2 linked regions of the Homo sapiens genome follow. The protein of the gene in region 1 binds, or shares a complex with, the protein of each later gene. Each region holds a gene or a part of one and is shown in the gene's direction. Other genes may lie near its edges. The genes, in order: ZCCHC7 and TENT4B.

Region 1 (10,681 bases):
CAGGAGTTCAAGACCAGCCTGGCCAACATGGTGAAACCCTGTCTTTACTAAAAATACAAAAATTAACTGGGCGTGGTTGCAGGTGCCTGTAGTACCTGCTACTTGGGAAGCTGAGGCAGGAGAATCACTTGAGCCGGGGAGGTGGAGGTTGCAGTGAGCTGAGATCATGCCATTTCACTCCAGCCTGGGCAACAGAGTGAGACTCTGTCACAAAAAATAAAAAAATAAAAAAAAGATTTCACAATACACCTACTGCTCTGCAATGTACCTTTTTTCACTGAACTGTATGTCTTTGTGAATCTTTCTATATCTTTTTGTTGAAGCTGCGTCTACAGGCGTGTGCCACCGTGCACGGCTAATTTCTGTATTTTTAGTAGACGGGGGTTTTGCCATGTTGGCCAGGCTGGTCTCCACCTACTGGGCTCAAGTGATCCTCCCACCTCAGCCTCCCGAGTAGCTGGGACTACTGATGCATATCACCATTCCCAGCTAATTTTTGTATTTTTGTTGAGACAGGGTTTCGCCATGTTACCCAGGCTGGTCTGGAACTTCTGGGCTCAAGAAGTCTGCCTTCCTTAGCCTACCAAAGTGCTAGGATTACAGGTGTGAGCCACTGTGCCAGGCCAAAAGTGGCATTTTTTTTAATAGTATAAGTATGTCCTTGTTTAGATCGTTCCCTACTAATGAATATTTGTTTCCATTTTTTTCTATCACAATGTTTGTACATACATTTAAGAACATACCTCATAATAGCGATAGATGCTATTAAATAGCTCTCCTAACACACTTTTCCAGTTTGTATTCTCATCTACTGTGCATGAGATAATTTGCATTTTTCTGACTGTTAGTGATGCAGAGCACCTATTCACGGCCTTTGGGTTTCTTGTTCTGTGAATTGCCTGTTAGTGGTCTTTGCTGTGAGAATGCTGAATTGTCCGTCTTTGTCTGACTACTTATTTCTCCAGGCCTCACTCAATTCTGTTCCTCTGCAGAGGCTTCCCCATGTCCCCTAATCAGCCACCACCCCCTCCTCTGCTGTCCCATAACACTGTTCACACCATGCCCAGGCCTTCATTTACCAACCATTCCATACAAAATCTACTCATTCCAAAAGTGTCCACTGTGAGCCTTCTCTGTGCTTGGCCTTGGGCTAGGTGCTGGGTGGAGAGACATGAGCCAGTCATCATAGACTCCATGCTAAAGTTCAATTTTGAAATGCAGCTTTGAGCATAGAAAAGAGCATGAGTTTTAGATCTAGACATAACTTGAGTTGAATTCCAGCTTCACCACTTCCCAGCTGTGTAATTCAGAGCAAGTCACTTGATTACTCCAAGTCTCCATTTCCATACTAGTGAGGTGAGGCTAATCCCTCCCTAAGAGAGTCACTTGAAGCTGGGCAAGAGACAATAATATCTGAAATGGCTAAAAAGGGCCTGTTACACAGTAGGCTTGCAGTGGATGAATGGTAGTTGAAAGGCAACTGTTAAGAGGTCAAAATCAGTTAGTTCTCAGAGGTTCTAAGAGCCACCAATAAACTGGAAAATAAAAAGGAAGGAAGTAGCTCCTCTCTTTGCAATGCAAAGGATATGGATGAGTGCCACTTGCCCAGATCCTGCTGCAGAATATCCTTTATCTTTCCTGCTCTCTGCAGCAGATTTCTGCTTTGTCTTGGCCCCTCATCCCAATTCAGCTGTGCACTGTTGATGTCCTACTGCCACTTTCGTGGGAAGAACAGGTGCTTCCCTTCTCAAATAAATGTTGGTCTAGGCAGGGCGTGGTGGCTCACGCCCGTAATGCCAGCACTTTGGGAGGCAGAGGCGGGTGGATCACGAGGTCAGGAGATCGAGACCATCCTGGCTAACACAGTGAAACCCTGTCTCTACTAAAAATACAAAAAAATAAGCTGGGCGTTGTGGCGGGTGCCTGTAGTCCTAGCTACTCAGGAGGCTGAGGCAGGAGAATGGCGTGAACCCGGGAGGCGGAGGAGTTTGCAGTGAGCCGAGATCGCGCCACTGCTCTCCAGCCTGGGTGATAGAGTGAGACTCCATCTCAAATAAATAAATAAATAAATAAATAAATAAATAAATAAAATAAACGTTGGTCTCTTTAGAAGATACTCTGTAAGAAAGACTTCAGGATATTTGTGCATGCTGTCACCCATGATTTCAAGAAGTAGGGGCTGAGCACTGTGGTTCACACTGAGGCGGGAGGACTGCTTGAGACAGTTCAAGACCAGCCTGGTCAACATGGCGAGATCCCATCTCTACAAAATGTATATAGTTTTAAATTAGCCAGGTGCAGTGTGGTGATGCACGCCTGTAGTCCCAGCTTCTTGGGAGGCTCAGGTGGGAGGATCTCTTGAGCCCAGGAGGTTGAGGCTCCAGTGAGCTGTGTTTACACCACTGCACTCCAGCCTGAGTGACAGAGTGAGACCCTGCGTCAAAAAAAAAATAAAATAAAATAAAAAGGAGAAATGGGGAGTAGAGACAGCTTCAATTAGAAAGAGAAATGCTGTGTATGTGGAGAGAGGCTAAGGTGGAAAGTTTCCCTGAAGACCCAAAACTTCAGCAGAGTAGGGTGAGTGGGTATATGTTAGAAGGACAGGGAGAAGGGCTTTACAGGCAGTGGAGTGTTCTCTGCAAAGGCACAGGTGTGGGAGGGCATGGTGTGTTCTGGCAACTGCCCAGGATTCAGCGTCAACAGTAGGCAGATGTCAGCTCATGAAGTGCCTTTTATGCCATCCAAAGGACTCTAGGTTTGAAGACATAAACTAAAGGGGTAGGCTGAAGCATTCTGAGCATGGGAAAGCAGTAAATCTTTGTTGAATGCATGTGTGACAGTGGGAAGATGGGACATGGTAATTAGGAGTACAGTCGTGTCATTTAATGATGGGGATAAGTTTTGAGAAGTGCATTGTTAGGTGATTTTTTCATTGTGCAAACTTCATCGAGCATATTTACACAAACCTAGATGGTATAGTCAAGTAAACACCTAGGCCACATGATGTAGCCTATTGCTCCCAGATTACAAACTGCTACATGTTACTGTACTGAATACTGTAGGTGACTATAACACAATAAGTATTTGTGCATCTAAACATGGAAGAGGTACAGTAAAAATATGATAAAATAATCATCATATATGCAGTCTGGTTTTGAGTGGAATGTCATTATGAAGCACATAACTATTATTTCCTATACTTGTGGCCTTCTATAAGTTTTACTTAGCCTTTCTACGCCTCTTTTCTTTTTTTGTGTGTGTGAAATTGGAACTTAAAACATCAACTTGAAAGTATTGGTGGGGCTGAGTGTCTCATGCCTGTAATCCTAGGACTTTGGGAGGCTGAGGTGGGGGGATCACTTGAGGCCTGGAGCCCAGAAGCTGGAGACCAGCCTGGGCAATACGGGGAGACCCTATCTCTACAAAAAAGTTTTAAAAATTAAAAAAATAATTAACTCAGCATGGTGGTGTGTGCCTTTAGTCCCAGCTACTTGGGAGGTTAATGCGGGAGCATCATTTGGGAGATAGGTTTCAGTGAGCTGTGATTACACCACTGCACTCCAGCCTGGGTGACAGAGCAAGACCCTTTCTCAAAAAAAAAAAAAAAATCCACAAAGTGTTGTCGAAATTTAAAATATTATAATAGATGGACAGGAGTAATCCTGGCAATATATTTTTAAATTTTTAAAAAGGTGACATTTGTTTTACACAATACATATTACCAAAACAAACAATCTAGTCATCTGTGATGTGCTTCTATGCCTGTTTTCTTTTCTGGAAAGTGGTTCTCCAATTTTACCTTTTCATAGTACCTTGTCCTTCTCCTTCCCAGCACTTACCCCATAATGTTAATTAAATGTTCTAATTCTTTTCTGGCCAAACTCCTAGACTATAACTGTTTTCCTAGCTAGATGCCTATCTCTATGAGATCAGTGACTTAAAAATTTACAGCTTTTCTGCACTTTCTAACACCGTCTTTTAACAGATAGATGTTCAATAAACGTTGGTGAAAACAATCAAACTCACACTTGTCTTGAGGAGAATTGAAATAGGCCAATGAATTGGCAGTGTGTCATTATGAGAGGAGAAAAATAGTTCAGAGCAGTCTAAGTTACGTTAAAGGTATGCAAAAATAATTTTTTTAAAAATTAAAGATATGGGGTCTCTCATCCAGGCTGGAGTGCAGTGGTGTGATCACAGCTCACTATGACCTTGAACTCTCAGGCTCAAGCAATCTTCTCACCTTGGCCTCCTTAGTAGCTAGGAATACAGTTGTGTGCCACCACGCCTGGCTAATTTTTACTATTTAAAATTTCTTATTTATTTTTATTTTTATAAAAAGATTTGTTTTTTTAAATTTATTTTTATATAATTTTTTAATTAAGAAAAGGATCTTATTTTAAATATAGATGGGGTCTTCTTATGTTGCCCAGGCTGGTCTCCAACTCCTGAGCTCAAGCGATCCACCTGCCTCAACCTCCCAAAGTGCTGGGATTACAGCCATGAGGCACCTTGCTTGAGCTTTAAACATTTTTGTTCAGACGGTCTCATTCTGGAGTGCAATGGTGCGATCTCGGCTCACTGCAGCCTAGACCTCCGCAGTTCAAACCTCAGCCAGGAACAGCTGGGACTCCAGGTGTGGGCCACCACGCCCTGTTATTATTATTATTTTTTTGACACGGAGTTTCTCTCTTGCTGCCCAGGGTGGAGTGCAATGGCGCAATCTCGGCTCACTGCAACCTCCGCCTGCCGGGTTAAAGCGATTCTCCTGCCTTAACCTCAGGAGTGGCTAGGATTACAGGCATGCGCCATCACGCCCGGCTAATTTTGTATTTTTACTAGAGACGGGGTTTCGCCATGTTGGTCAGGCTGGTCTCCAACTCCTGACCTCAGGTGATCCGCCCGCCTCGGCCTCCCAAAGTGCTGGGATTACAGGCGTGAGCCACTGCGCCCAGTCGCCCAGTTAATTTTTAAATTTTTAAATTTTTTTGTAGAGACAGCGTCTTGCTATATTACCCCGGCTGGTTTCGAATTCTCGGCCTTAAGCTATCCTCCCACTTCGGGCTCCCAAACAGGTGAGAGCTACCCCATTAGCCAGGCAGGCATTCAAACTTTATCAGGCCCAGAGGGACTTGAGTATGGTACTTCAGTTAGCACCATCCCATGTAGGTGGTGGTGGGGGTGGGGGTGGGGGGTAGGGGTGTGTGGCAATTGTTTAAAGGCATTTTGTTCTTTTCTTCCCAGTACCTGCATCACCCTTTATCTTCGTGTTCCTAAAATTTGTGATAGAAAGAACAATGTGTAGCCAATGGATAGCTTATGTTATTTTAGTGTCAATTCTTGGTATGTAGTTTAGCAAAAGCCTCTTCTTTTTTCCTTTAAAAATTCACTCGTGGCCGGGCGCGGTGGCTCACGCCTCTAATCCCAGCACTTTGGCAGGTCGAGGCCAGGAGTTCGAGACCAGCCTGGCCAACATGGTGAAACCCCGACTCTACTAAAAATACAAAAATTAGCTGGGCGTGGTGGCAGGCGCCTGTAATCCCAGCTACTTCGGAGGCTGAGGCAGGAGGATGGCTTGAATCTGGGAGGCGGAGGTTGCAGTGAGCCGAGACCGCGCCATTGCACTCCAGCCTGGGCAACAACTGCGAAACTCCGTCTCAGGAAAAAAAAAAAAAAAAAAAAAAAAAAAACCATAAAGAAAGAAAAAAATTCACTCGTAGCTGCTACAAGAAGTGTAATGGCTCATGCCTGTGATCCCAGTGCTTTGGGAGACAGAGGTGGGAGGATCGATACCTTTAAGCCTGGAGCTTCACAAGACAAAGAACTCAGTTGAAACTGCTGCTTATCGGATCACATATTAAGGGCAACTTGAATTGATGATCCCAGGTTGCCCTCATCAAACTTGGCCCAAATAAATTCTCCACTTATATTAACTTTGCCTCAGTTTTTCCTTTAGGTCGACAGTTATTTCTAAAGTTCTACAGATGGGTTTACCTTGTATTAAAATAAGGTGTGAGAAGGGCAAATGAAGCCAGAGGCTCCCAGCACAATCTTGCAACCTTCAGAGACTTCCAAAGGATCAGCATTAACTCCAATATTTAGCAGGAGTGCAGCTCTTCGAGATTCACAAAGTGTTAATCTGTTGCCTAGAATTCCAGAGAGTTGGAGGCGCCCAGTGTGAACTGTGTTCCGCCTAAAAGAAAAAGCGACCAGCCTAAGATCATGAGCGCAAGGGAGAAGCTTGAAGCCATGCGCTCTCAAGTACGCGTTTCCCGCTGCCCAGGTCTGCGGGCCAAGCAGCCAGCCACGCTGGCCCTCGTCATGCACGCGATCAGCTAGGCTCCCGCGCCACGTGGCACTGAGAAGGCGTCCACCGAGCGCCAGGGAGAAGGAGGCGGAGCCCGGCCTCAACCTCGCCCGTGTCCTCATGGGGGTTGTAGTTTTCCTCGCGGGGGTAGAGGGCACGAACTCCCCGGCTTTTGCCCGGTAAATAGCATCTCCTTCGTACGAGTCATTCAAATAATAGATGCAGCCTAGGTAGCTTCAAGAGAAGTTGGGAAGGGGAAGGGGGAAAGCAAGGAAGGCAAACCTAATAATTATGGGCGGGGCAGAGAACGGTTCGCACCCACTACGCATGCGCACATCAGGCGCGGCAGGTGGGCGGGGACGGAAAGGCGGTGACTAGAGCTGTGTTGTCCCCGGAAGTGCCTTCCCTCCCGGGTCTGCGCGGACGCGGCCTCCTTACCTCATTTGTCCTCGCCCCTCCCCGTCCCTCTACGCGTTTTGGTTCCCGGTTGGTGCTTCCTGTTCGCAGCTGCGGCAGTGAGTATGTGTGTGACGGACCCCCGCCGCCCGCGGCTCGGGACCCCTGCCTACCCTCCTTCTTGCCCGCCGGGCTGTGGAACTAGCGCGTGCCCCCTCGCCGGCCTCGACGTCTCCCGTCCGCCCCTCACTCGTGGCAGGGCGCAGCTCCTGGTCCGTCACCTGCGCGCCGCCCCACGCGGCCGGGCTGCGGGTCTAGGGGGTCCGCGTCTCCCTGGCTTTCCAAGGGCTAATGCCGTGATTCTAGAGCGGCTGGGCGTCTAGGGCCTCGGTGAGGGTGGCGTGTCTGCCCTTTTTATTTCCCCGCAAGGCCCCCAGTCTTCTAGGGAAGCCAGTCAGTGAAGCGCGGAGGTCCCGGCGCGCCGAGAGAGAGTCCAGTCTTTGAGGACCGAGTAGTCCTGGGCCACCTCCCGCCTCTGCTGTCAGAAGCAGCAGCTGCAGCAGTAGAATCCAAAATTTCGGGAGCTGTGACCCTTTCCTCATGTAAAACGAGTAGACTTGGACTGTGTTTACTAAGGCGCCCTTTATCCCTCCCATCCTGTGAGCGGACAGTTGCCTTCAACTTTTGGGAAGAGCTGCTGGTTCGGTGGAAAAGCTGTGGCTGGGAATCAGGAGGCCTGGGTTCTAGCCGTGGCTCCCCCACGGATTCGCTGGCGATTCCAGAAAGCTCTTATTGAAGCTGAATTTAAGATTATTTCAGATTGCACAGTTGAATTACGGGCTGCATTAGTAGGGCCTTTTTAGCTCAGTGAATAAGTTTCTCTGAGCTCCTTTCTCCAACTATAAAACGAGAGCGTTCAATTTGATGACTTTTCAGGTCCCCTCAGAAGCTCTTGACTTTGTGGTTTTCTTTTTCTTTTTAAAATTTTTTCTAGGACCGTTAGAGAAATGACTTCGTGTTTGAATAGTTAGGCTGTCGCATACAAAGACTTTTAAATGGATTGTGTGTATACTTAGGAAAGCGTTATGCTTTCAGGAGAATCTGAGCATGGGGAATAAAGTCAGGAAGGATCGCAAGTGAGGATTATATTAATATGATAATTAGCACGGTAAGAGACTGCATGACCGAAGGAAAAGGGCTAAGGGAAAGGTGAAGGAAATGTTTCCGGATAGGATTAGTTCTCGTAAAAATCATATATATATCCCAAGAAGAGCTGGGACTTAAGTGACTAAATTTAGCTTATTTTTTTTCCCCCACTGAAATACTGTGCTCTGTTTGTCTTTTGTGACTTTTGTTTTACACATTTGGATTCTCCATCCCAATCAGATTTGATTCAGAGTGGCCATCGCATTTGAAAAATGGACAGACATTTTAACCCTTTAGACAATTGTGTTTCAACTGTCCTGTCAGGGCAGCTTACTAAGAGTAAGAAAAATTTTACTTTGAAAGTAAAGTGTATTCATCACATTCCAATGAAAATTGGACTGAAAATGAGGCTGTGGATTTGATTTAAATCGGCCGGAGATGGATGCGTGTGTCATCAAGAAGGAACATCTAGGGAGGCTAAAGATATTTGGAAGTAAATAAGAGCAAAAGGTCAGAATGACCAGTAGGTAGACTGTGAGAGCAGAAGGATTGATTAAAGACTGTGTTAAGTAAATGCTGAAAGCTTAAATAAGCCTTAAGTTGTCTAGTTTAAAACAATTCAGTCAATGAATACTGCTCCCTCTTTTGAATGGTAATAGCCTTTGCAGTTATTCTATAGCTGTTTTATATTTGTTAAGGTATTTTAATTCTTAGATAAGTTTCATTTGCATGATATTTTAAGATGTTATATAGGAAACATCTTTTCTGGTCATGGGATTGATAGTTTTTGAGTACCAACTTGGGAGATTCTTAAATGGCAAACTGACAAACGTGTGTTTTCCTTACACCTAAAATGTCTCATTTAGTTTTTAAACTCTGCTGGGACATAAAATGGATATTTGTGAGGTAAATTTAGGTGTTAGAACCAATGCAAATATTGCAATGAAGGAAGGTTTTTCTTCAAAAAATCTTAATTTGAAGTTAACTTATTTGAAAATTTTATTTTGGGCCATGTGCGGTGGCTCACGCCTGTAATCCAGGCACTTTGGGAGTCCGAGTGGGGCGGATCACGAGGTCAGGAGTTCGAGACCAGCCTGGCCAACATGGTGAAACCCGTCTCTGCTAAGAATACAAAAATTACCCAGGCGTGGTGGCGCGTGCCTGTAATCCCAGCTACTTGGGAGGCGGAGGCAGGAGAATTTCTTGAACCCAGGAGGAGGAGGTTGCAGTGAGCCGAGATTGCGCCACTGCACTCTCACCTGGGGGACAGAACGAGACTCCGTCTCAAGGGGGAAAAAAAGAAATTTGTTTAAAAATTTTAGTAAACAGTTGGCTGAGAATCACAGAAATGTGAATCACTTCTAGCCGTGTTCTTAACCAGCTGCATAACCTTGAATAGGCTTCCTATCTCTTTGTATTTCAGTTTCCTGATGGGAAGATTGAGGAGTCTGTATGAGATAATCTGATTTTGTTACCTAGTTAGTATACTTGGGAATCATGTACAGGGATAAAAAAGCTGAGAAAGCCTTCTGAGTCAAGGGTGTGTGTGTGTGTGTGTGTGTGTGTGTGTGTGTGCGTGTGCGTGTGTGTGTAAAAAACATATATTGTCTTCCAAGACACTTTTTAAAAGGGTAAATTAAATTCATTTGAACGTAATTAAAGCAGTAACATTAACGAAAACAACCTTAGGCAGACCTTAACCCTGGCATACATAAACTACCTAAATAAGAGAGCACGTTATGCCCAGCACAATTTTCAAGTACAGACGGTACAAAATCCTCTTAAAGGCCATAGGGGCTAAATTGTTAAATTCATTTTTCTACATTTCAGGGAAAGAGATAAATCCTTTGACCCAAGGAAGTCAGTTTTTATTATGGTTCTGTAGTTTATTTTTGGCATACATTCACAGGTGTGCCTATGGCTCTATTCTTAATCCCTTTCCTTTGGGATGGCTGCAAGAGTAGTACAAACTTGTAACTTTGTAATTTGGCTTTTTAATTTTTTCTGTGCTGCACTGGAATTATGTTTTGTCTTAAGTCCACACTGGATCCTCAGGATGGATCCAGTGAGGATTTTGAAAGAAGCATAATTCCTTTGACTTCTTTTAGAATTAATTTACCTATTAAATAAAAAGGAAAGGATTCATCTTTTATTCGAATTCCTCTGAGGCTAACAATTCAATATAAACTGATGAATGCTGTGAGCATTATTCAGACAATCACATTCAATTTGTGTGACAGTAACAGCATAGCCACCTGAAGGACAGTGCAACAAGGGCACAGGTATATGATACCCTTTAGAAGAAAAGCATTACAGGTGGGTTTATTTGTTTCTGGAAAACAAACAACTCCAGTAGGAATGTAGTACATTTTTGGCTCTTGTCCATTTGGTTTTTGGGATTAAGGTGGTTCTATTACCAGAACTACCACCACAACACCCTGGTATTTTTGGGCAGAAATTTGGGACACTAAGAAAACAACTATTTTTTATTTTATGTGTATAGCTGTTAGTGGAAGAAAGAATAAATAGGCATCATTATTGCTCTTTAGGCTGTCCCTGATTTTGGACACACACTTATTTTTTCAGGGCTCTCATTTTAATCAGTAGTCCATCAGTACCTAATGGAAACATCTACTGTGTAGAGTTTTGGTTGCTGATGCTAGAATTTAAGACTTTGGAGTAGTCGAAAGACAACAGAGAAATTCATCTCATAATTTTTGTATTTTAAGCACATACTAGATTTATCAGGGCTGAAGAACAAATGCCCGATGGTGTAGTTCATTTATTCATTTATGAATTCAGCAAACGTTTGTAGCTGACCCCGAAAATACC
Region 2 (9,862 bases), on another chromosome or scaffold:
ATTCTCCTGCCTCAGCCTCCCAAGTAGCTGGGATTACAGACACACGCCACTACGCCTGGCTAGTTTTTTGTACTTTTGGTAGAGATGGGGTTTCACCATGTTCACCAGGCTGGTCTTGAACTCCTGACCTCAAGTGATCTGCTCACCTCGGCCTCCCAAAGTGCTGGGATTACAGGCATGAACCACTGCGCCTGGTCATAAAGGTTTTTTGTTTGTTTGTCTCTTTGTTTGTTTTCAGACAGAGTTTCCCTCTTGTTGCCCAGGCTGGAGTGCAATGGCACGATCTCGGCTCACTGCAACCTCCGCCTACCAAGTTCAAGCAATTCTCCTGCCTCAGCCCCCTGAGTAGCTGGGATTACAGGCATGCACCACCATGCCCAGCTAATTTTGTATTTTTAGTAGAGACGGGGTTTCTCCATGTTGGTCAGGCTGGTCTCCAACTCCCAACCTCAGATGATCCACCCATCTCGGCCTCCCAAAATGCTGGGATTACAGGCATGAGCCACCGTGCCCGGCACCACAAAGTGATTTTTATATTTTTTTCTATAGAGGTGGGGTCTTGTCATGTTGCCCAAGCTGGTCTCAAACTCCTGAGCTGAAGCAATCTGCCCACTTTGGCCTCCAGAAGTGCTGGGATTATAGGCTTGAGCCACTGCACCCGGCCTACAATGTATTTTTATGTATGTTAACTAATTTTTAGCATTTTGCCAATACTTTAGTAGTTCTTAACCTTTGCCTGAGGAAATCAGCACTCAAATATAACAAATGTTAATTTCTTGCACATGCTATTACTAATTTTGAGTACCTTGAAAAAACTTAGATATCAATGGCATTTAATGTGTTCTAGAATGTCTGAATAAATATTTTATTTTATTTATTTTTTTGAGACAGGGTTTCATTCTGTCACCCAGGCTACAGTACAGTGGTGCAATGTCGGCTCACTGCAACCTCTGCCTCCTAGGTTCAAGTGATTCTCCTGCCTCAGCCTCCCAAGTAGCTGGGATTACAGGTGTGCGCCTATGAGGCCCAGCTAATTTTTGTGTTTTTAGTAGAGATGGGGTTTCACCATGTTGTCCAGGCTGCTTTCAAACTCCTGACCTCAAGTGATCCATCTGCCTCTGCCTTCCAAAGTGCTGGGATTACAGGTGTGAGCCACCGTGCCTGGTCCTAAAGAAATATTTTAAGAGACTGGAATATATACCTGTATTTCAACATGTACATATGCATGGAGAGATTTTTGGATGAATGTTTAACAATTTTCACAGTGGGCATTTCTGTTGGTGGGACCTTGATAACATCTGTTTTTTTTTTTTTTTGATGGAGTCTCGCTGTGTCACCCAGGCTGGAGTATAGTGGTGCAATCTCAGCTGACTGCAACCTCTGCCTCCCGGGTTCAAGTGATCCTTCCACCTCAGCCTCCAGAGTAGCTGGGACTACTTGTGTGCGCCACCACCCCGGCTACATTTTTTGTATTTTTAGTAGAGATGGGGTTTCACCATGTTGGTCAGGCTGGTCTCAAACTCCTGACCTCAAGTGATCCTCCTACCTCAGCCTCCCAAAGTGCTGGGATTACAGGTGTGAGCCACCGCGCCCAGCCAATAATGTTTAGTGTTTTGGGCTTTCCATTGTTCTTATTTGAATTAAAAAGAAAAATGTTTTCCTGACCTTATGTCTTGAGATTGAATTTAAAAATTTTATTATTATTACTATTATTATTATTATTTTTACAGGCAGGGTCTTGCTATATTGCCCAGACTGGTCTCAAACTCCAAGCCTCAAGCCACCTTCCGGCCTAAACCTCCCAAAGCACTGGGATTATAGGTGTAATCCACCATGCCTCTCCTGAATTTTTTTTTTTCAAGCAGGGTTTAAGAAAATATATTTAAATTTTTTAGTTTTATTTCCTTTTCTTCTCTTTTGAGACAAAAATCTCGCTGTGTTGCCCAGGCTGGTCTTGAACTTCTGGGCTCAAGTGATCTTCCTGCCTCAGCCTCCCAAAGTACTGGGATTACAGGCATGAGCCACTGCGCCTGGTCATTTTTATTTTTATTTTTAAGACAGGATCTCACTCAGGCTGGAGTGCAGTGTCACAAACATGGCTCACTGTAGCCTCGACCTCCTGTGCTCAAGCCATACTCCCACCTCAGCCTCCCGAGTAGTTGGGACCACAGGCACTCGCCACCAAGCACAGCTAATTTTATTTATTTATTTATTTATTTATTGAGACGGAGTCTAGCTCTGTCGCCCAGGCTGGAGTGCAGTGGCACGATCTCGGCTCACTGTAACCTCTGCCTCCCAAGTTCAAGTGATTCTCCCACCTCAGCCTCCTGAGTAACTGGCCTTAGAGATGTGGGCCACCATGCCCGGCTAATTTCTTTTTTTAAGTAGAGATGGAGTTTCACCATGTTGGCCAGGCTGGTCTCAAACTACTGACCTCAAGCGATCTGCCTGCCTCAGCCTCCCGAATTGCTGGGATTACAGGCGTGAGCCACCACACTTGGCCTGAAAGCATGGATCTTAAGTACCCAGCATCCTGAGAAGACAGAGTTTACAAAAGTATGTAAATCAAATGTATCTCTGATACTTTGCTGAAGAAAGCCTTTTACTTAACATACTTAGGATATTACTATGGTGTAACTGATGAATTAGCATCTGATAATAGTTTGGATATCTGTCTCCTCCAAATTTCATGTTGAATATTTTTTTCTTTTTTATTACCTTGATCCTACGTTAAAGGAAAAGGCCCAGCTCATTTTTAAATTTTTTGTAGAGACAGAGGTCTCACCATGTTGCCTAGGCTGTTCTCAAACTCCTGGCTTCAAGTAATCCTCTCACCTCAGTCTTCCAAAGTGCTGGGATTACAGGCATGAGCCACTGCATCCTGCTGAGAGAGAGAGAGAGATAGATATATATATATATAATTTTTTTTTTTTGAGACAGAGTCTCACTGTGTCACCTAGGCTGGAGTGCAATGACGCGATCTCGGCGCACCAAAACCTCTGCCTCCAAGGTTCAAATGATTCTCCTGCCTCAGCCTTCCAAGTAGCTGGGATTACAGGCATGTGCCACCACACCCGGCTAATTTTTTGTATTTTTAGTAGAGACGGGGTTTCACCACATTGGCCAGGCTGGTCTCGGGAACTCCTGAGCTCATGATCTGCCCGCGTCAGCCTCCCAAAATGTTGGGATTACAGGTGTGAGTCACCACGCCCGGCCAGAGATTCAATTTTTAAAACAAATATGAGGTCAGCAAACAAAATCTATTTCTATACAATGTTTTATTTTTGTCAGTGTAAATAACACAAAAAATACGGCTACTTATTTTCCTGGCTATGTAATAATTAGTACATAGCAAATTTCATTCAGGGAAAACTTTTTTTTTTTTTTTTTTTTGAGATGGAGTCTCGCTCTGTCACCCAGGCTGGAGTGCAATGGCGAGATCTCGGCTCACCACAACCTCCACCTCCTGGGTTCATGTGATTCTCCTGCCTCAACCTCCTAAGTAGCTGGGATTACAGGCATGCGCCACCACACCCGGCTAATTTTGTATTTTTAGTAGAGATGGGGTTTTTCCGTGTTGGTCAGGCTGGTCTCGAACTCCCGACCTCAGGTGATCTGCCTGCCTTGACTTCCCAAAACGCTGGGATTACAAGTGTGAGCAACCGCCCCCGGACAGAGAAAACTTTTAATACTGATTTCTAGTAAAGCAACAGCAACAATCAAATTGAATGAATCAAAATTCCGAAGGGTTTTTTTTGTTTGTTTTTGGTGGACAGGAAGTAGGATTTACTGGGGAGTATTAAGAGGGGGCAGCACAGTGGAAGCCCTCACGAGGGCAGGGCACGCCACTTGTCCAGAGGGCCATGATGGGGATGTACTTGACCCCACAGTCATCTGCGATGAGCCGCTTTTCAGCCACCATGTCTTCAAATTCATCCGCAGTGAACTTGGTGAAGCCCCACTTCTTTGAAATGTGGATCTTCTGGCAGCCAGGGAACTTGAACTTGGCCCTGAGCAGGGATTCAATCACATGCTCCTTATTCTGCAGCTTGTTGCAGATGGACATGATAACTTGGCCAATGTGAACCCTGGCCACAGTGCCCTGGAGCTTTTCAAAGGCACCTCGAATATCTGCCTGGAGCCTACATTGGCGTAGTGCAAGGTCAAAGACATGAACATACATCTGAAAGGCCTGTCTCCATGGTCCCTTAGAGCAGCCCATACAAGAAACAGGCTGCATAAACTACCAAGGAAGCTGTTGTTTGCAGCTGAAGGGTCTTTGTGTGTTTTCCGTATTTCTGGTCGTGCTATTTATTCTCTTACCAAAAAAAAAAAAAAAAGTAAGGTCAGGCGTGGTGGCTCACCCCCTTGTAATCCCAGCAGTTTTGGAGTCTGAGGTAGGAGGATCGCTTAAGTCCAGGAGTTCCAGACCAGCCTGGGCAGCGCAGAGCAACTTCGTCTCTATGCCATGTTGACGCGTGCCTATAGTCCTAGCTACTCGGAGGCTGGGGCAAGAGGATCGCTTGAACCCAAGAGGCCGAGCCTGCAGTGAGCTGTGAATGAGTCACTGAACTCCAGATGACAGAGCAAGAGTTAGTCTCGAAAGAAAGAAAAAGGTAGAGCGACACTTAGTTCTTTGATAGTTTTCCACTATTTGTCATAAAAACTTTCCAGGATATTGAGCTCCCAAAATGGAAGGCCAATATCAGGCATCAGGGACTTGTTCTGGACGTTGGACCAACCTTAAAGGGCCCACATAGAAGCTGTTCACTTACTTTCTTTTAGTCTCTTGATTTAAAATACTTAACATTCCCCTTTCCTTGGCTTTTTAACCACTGAGATTTGAAAGACATGCAAATAACGACCTAGTGGACAATCTTTGCTGATGCTAAATCTTCATTTTAGGATTAAAAGGTTTTGGGTTTTCTTAAAATTTAATGCTGAACTCAGAAGAGCTTTCTAAGGCTGTTGGTGCACCTTAGGGCAGGAGAGCGTCTTTGCTACGCCGCGCAGGAGTGTGTCTGCTTCTCTGTGCATCTACACGTGTTTGCGTGTCCCTGTAAAGTGGGTTGAGTGTGCGGCTGCGGCTTTCCGCCCTTGGCTCACACTCTCAGTCTTAGTGGTCTCCCCCAGGGCTATGCATGGGGTACAGGTTTCTGTGGCCTCAGGCCGGGGTGAGGGGTCCCCCACCCCGGCCAGGGCGCAGCAGGGCGGGGCACACGTAGCCGTGCAGGGTCTCGCGCAGCCCGCGTCAGGACCCCGGGGCACACGCTCGGGCAGGGGGCGTGTCCCCACGCCACCAGAAAAAGTGTTATAGGCTGTTTTTTTTTTTTTTTTTTTTTTTAAAAAGAAAGTGTTTTAGAAAGCAGGCAGAAGCCAAGACGTCAGGAAGGGTTGCGAGGGCCCGGGATCCGGCGGCCACAGGGATGGGAGGGGCGAGGAGCGAGGGGCGGAGTGGCACCTCCCACAACGCGCTCCCTGCGGGGCGGGCGGCAACCTCCATGCGGCCTCGTCCACGCTCAGCACCGGGGAAGCCGAGGCGGAGAAGCCGCGCGCGCCTCAGAAGCTCCCGGACGCCCAGGTACGTGGGAGCACTCCACAGATGGCGCAAGTACGGTTGGGCCAGGCGGTTGCGGCCCCGTCGCGCCGCGGCCTCTGTGACGCACGGCGAGGCCTCCCGGGCTGCTGCGCGGCGCAGCGGGGGCGGGGCGAGCGCGTGAGGGCGGGGCGGTGGGGGGGGGGGGCGGAGCGAGAGGGGCGGAGCCGGCAGAGGCCCCGCCCCGGGGCCGGAGGAGCGAGGACGCTACGGAGCAGGCGCGTCTCGCTGCCGCCGCTGCCGCCGCCGCCGCTCGCTCTTCTGTGGAGCCGCCGCCGCCGCCGCCGCCATTTGCACGGGGACCCCAGTGACAGGGGCTCGGCGGAGGGGCGGAGGGGCGGAGGGAGGGGGGGAGGGCCCGCGGAGCCCCCGAGGGCGGGAGCGACGCCGCCGGCGCCGGCCGGGCTCCCTGCGCGACCGCGCCGCCCGCGGCGGGCCCCGAGCAGCAGCAGCAGCAGCAGCGGCAGCAGCGGCAGCAGCAGCAGCAGCCGAGGCCGGGCGTGCGCCTGAGGCGGCGGCGGCGGCGGCCCTGCGGGCGGCCGGGAGGGGCGGGGGCAGCGGCCGCCGCCGTTTGATGGATCCGAGGATCGCCTGGTTTCAGCCAGAGCAGCTCGGACCGTCCAACAGTCTGTGGATGCAGATCTGGGAGACGACCCAGGGGCTGAGGAACCTCTACTTCAACCACCACTGTCACAGCAGCGGCGGCGCGAGCGGCGGCGGCGGCAGCAGCAGCAGCAGCAGCACGGCCACCGGCGGGAGCGGCAGCAGCACCGGCAGCCCCGGCGGCGCGGCCTCGGCCCCGGCCCCGGCCCCGGCCGGCATGTATCGCTCCGGGGAGCGCCTGCTGGGCAGCCACGCGCTGCCCGCGGAGCAGCGGGACTTCCTGCCCCTAGAGACGACCAACAACAACAACAACCACCACCAGCCCGGGGCCTGGGCCCGCCGGGCGGGCTCCTCGGCGTCCTCGCCTCCCTCGGCGTCCTCGTCCCCGCACCCTTCGGCCGCCGTCCCCGCCGCCGATCCAGCCGATTCGGCCTCGGGCAGCAGCAACAAGAGGAAGCGCGACAACAAGGCCAGCACGTATGGACTCAACTACAGCCTGCTGCAGCCCAGCGGAGGGCGGGCCGCGGGGGGCGGCCGAGCAGACGGCGGCGGGGTCGTGTACAGCGGGACCCCGTGGAAACGGAGGAACTACAACCAGGGAGTCGTGGGGTGAGTGCTGGCTCTGCGGCCCGATGGCCTGGCCGGTGCGAATGCGCAGCCGGGCACACGCCCACAGAGGGGGGTTGTGAGGGTCTAGGAGCGGCCACCCCCACGGCCTGCCTTCGCTGCTGTTGCACGGGGGTGCTGCTGGCCATCCCCAACCCCCCAGTCGTTCACACCTTTCCCCAAGCCTCCTTAGCCGTCCACACCCTCCGTCTCCTGTCCTCCCTTAGTCGTCCACACCTTCCTCCCCTCCCTCTTAACCGTCCACACCTTCCCCAGGCCCCCCCCTTTATCCATTCACTCTCCTCCCATCCCCCTTAGTTAAACACATCTACCCTTGACCACCACCCCGCCTCCAGCCCTCCACACCTTTTTCCCCATCATCACAACTCAAGATGAGACCGCTTAGCACGGGCCTATCATTCATTCCCTGAGAACATTGGTGTGTGAGTGTTTTTTGATGGTGCAGGACCCGGAGGTGCTTTCCTTGCCAAGAATAGAAACATCCAGAATGCTCCTCCCCATCCCCCAATCCCAGACAGCAATTATGTCAGCCCTGTAAGGCATTGCCTGCTCTTGACCCTTTGGCCCATCTTTTTATTTTTAAAAAATTCCCATGTCACAGATGCCCTGTCTATGCAGAGGGTGGCGTGGGATGGGTGACCACTAAGTTTAGGCTGGTGAAGGTGGTGAGCCCTTCTGAGGCCCTGATAGAACTTTCCAGGAGTTCATGGTCCGCGGCTCCAGCTTCTCACTGTAAAGTTGTCATCCTGGCAGAGGCAGCCAATGCTTTTCATTCTAGGGGGTAGAGATTTATGCTAATGAGTGAATATTGCACCACTAGTGACTTTCTGTTTAAAGTTCAGCTCTTAGAAAATGGAATCTTACCTGACCCCTAGTGAATTATGTACATAAGCAGGGAATGTTTCCAACTAGATCTCCCTTCAGAAGAGTCCCTGTGCTGGAATAGGTCACTGAATCTTATTTGTTTTGTAAAACAAAGCTTTTGGGTCTCGTGGGTGTGTGTGTGTGTGTGTGTGTGTGTGTGTGTGTGTGTGTAGCTTGAGTATGGAGAACCGGCTTTCAAATTGCTTTTCATTTTTCAGGTTGTGTTTTACATTGAGGGCTTTAGCATGCAAATGAAATTACCAATTAGTAATCCCATGTGAACCTTTTCCTGGATTTATTCATTCAGATCTGCCCTGCTTTGGCTGAGAGAGAGAGTTCTGTGTACCTTTTTGAAGGTCTGGATAAAATGAGTTGGTGGGTTCCATCTGCTTCCAGTGGGCTGGTGTCTGCTCTATGCTACTATTACAACTCCTACCTTTTGTGGAAAATGCAGTCAAGCGTTCTAGGACTGGTGCTGTGGTACATGTCAAACCTGCCCTCACATTCCAGAAAGGGAACCCTTTTAGGGTTGAGTCCTCTGTTGCTAAGCTTCAAGGGTGCTCTCCATGGTCATCACGTTTTATTAAAGGCTTGTGGTTCCATCCTGTTAGCATTTCCAAGTCTACGCGTAAACCTGTGGTTTAGTGACAAGCAAATTGATGTTGAGGGTTTCTGGTAGTTTCATTTCACAGGAGTAAGCTCCAGTTAGGTAATCACTGTCAACGAAAACCTTGAAGTTCCTTAATTGCATTTTACTGAAGCCTCTTTGCATGTGTCTAGCAAAAGATATAAGTCCAAGATGCTTATTTTTTTTTTGATAAATTAGAAATTGTCCTCTCCTCTACTTGCTATTTAATGCAGAAGATACTCTAAAAGGTTCATATTTATACTTAGAAGCAAGATGTTCTTGTTCCTGATTCAAATATATTGCCCTCAAAGGGATTAGGAGAGGAATTTTCATTTCCCGGAGGGATTACTGTTTAAAAACTGGTTGTAAACCTCTTTAAAAACTGCTTATCACTTCACCAGATTTTCCATTCTTTTGCCTCCTCCCTTAGAGGATGTCAGCAGTTAATTTTTTTTTTAAATTAAAAAAAGTTCAATTCTGAGACCTCCTAGTTTCAAAAAATACATTAAACAATTCCCAAGAGTGTTAAGAGTGTCTGGGTGCTTAGAAATTCTTGCTTTGATTCATGTATTCTGATTTTTTTTTTTTTTTTGAGACGGAGTTTCGCTCTTGTTGCCCAGGCTGGAGTGCAGTGGCTCGATCTCAGCTCACCGCAACCTCTGCCTCCCAGGTTCAAGCGATTCTGCTGCCTCAGCCTCCCGAGTAGCTGGGATTACAGGCGCTTGCCACCACGCCTGGCTAATTTTTTATTTTTAGTAGAGACGGGGTTTCTTCATGTTGGTCAGGCTGGTCTCGAACTCCTGACCTCAGGTGATCTGCCCGTCTTGGCCTCCCAAAGGACTGGGATTACAGGCATGAGCCACCGTGCCCGGCCTCATTATCCTGATTTCTTTTTTTTCTTTTGAGACTGGGTCTCACTCTGCTGCCTAGGCTGGAGTGGAGTGACGTGATCATAGCTCACTGTATCCTCTAACTCTTGGGCTCAAGTGATCCTCCTGCCTTAGCTTCCTGGAGTAGCTGGGACTACAGGCACATGTCACCACACCTGCCTAATTTTTTTATTTTTACTTTTTGTAGAGATGGGGCCTCCATTTGTTGCCTAGGCTGGTCTTCAACCGGCCTCAAGCAGTCCTCCCACCTTGGCCTCACAGAGTGCTGGGATTATAGGCATGAGCCACCATTCTCGCCAGTATCCTTATTTCTTAACTTTAGAAAGTTTTTCTATTTTTAATATAGGTATTTAAAAAAATCTGAATTCAGAGTGCACCTCGATGTTATGCTGTTCTGAGATTAAATATACTAAAACTGTTACCATTGTTTTCTGAATTCTTAAGATGTGACTGATAGTTAGCTAATAGGTTAACACATTGTGGTGGTTCTTGGCCTCTGAACTGATAGTCCAGATGGGGAGAGGAGACCAGAAAGCATGTGAAAATGGACTAGAACCATGGGACAGCTATATAGTCTCTCGCAGCTGTCTTTTGTGTTCTCTGCTTCCACCAAATTGGTTGATTTATTTAGAATGCTGACCTCTTGCATTGCCT

Evidence for each region.
Region 2: ZCCHC7 (region 1) and TENT4B share a complex: the UniProt entries of both Homo sapiens proteins name them as parts of the nucleolar TRAMP-like complex.

What each region holds. Positions count from the first base shown.
Region 1 is NC_000009.12:37,113,802-37,124,482, forward strand, and holds the start of ZCCHC7 (zinc finger CCHC domain-containing protein 7), read left to right. Parts: upstream 1-6,772; 5' UTR 6,773-6,822; exon of another isoform or gene 6,823-7,871; intron 7,872-10,681.
Region 2 is NC_000016.10:50,147,452-50,157,313, forward strand, and holds the start of TENT4B (terminal nucleotidyltransferase 4B), read left to right. Parts: upstream 1-5,854; 5' UTR 5,855-6,170; coding exon 6,171-6,808; intron 6,809-9,862. UniProt on the Homo sapiens protein: Terminal nucleotidyltransferase that catalyzes preferentially the transfer of ATP and GTP on RNA 3' poly(A) tail creating a heterogeneous 3' poly(A) tail leading to mRNAs stabilization by protecting mRNAs from active deadenylation.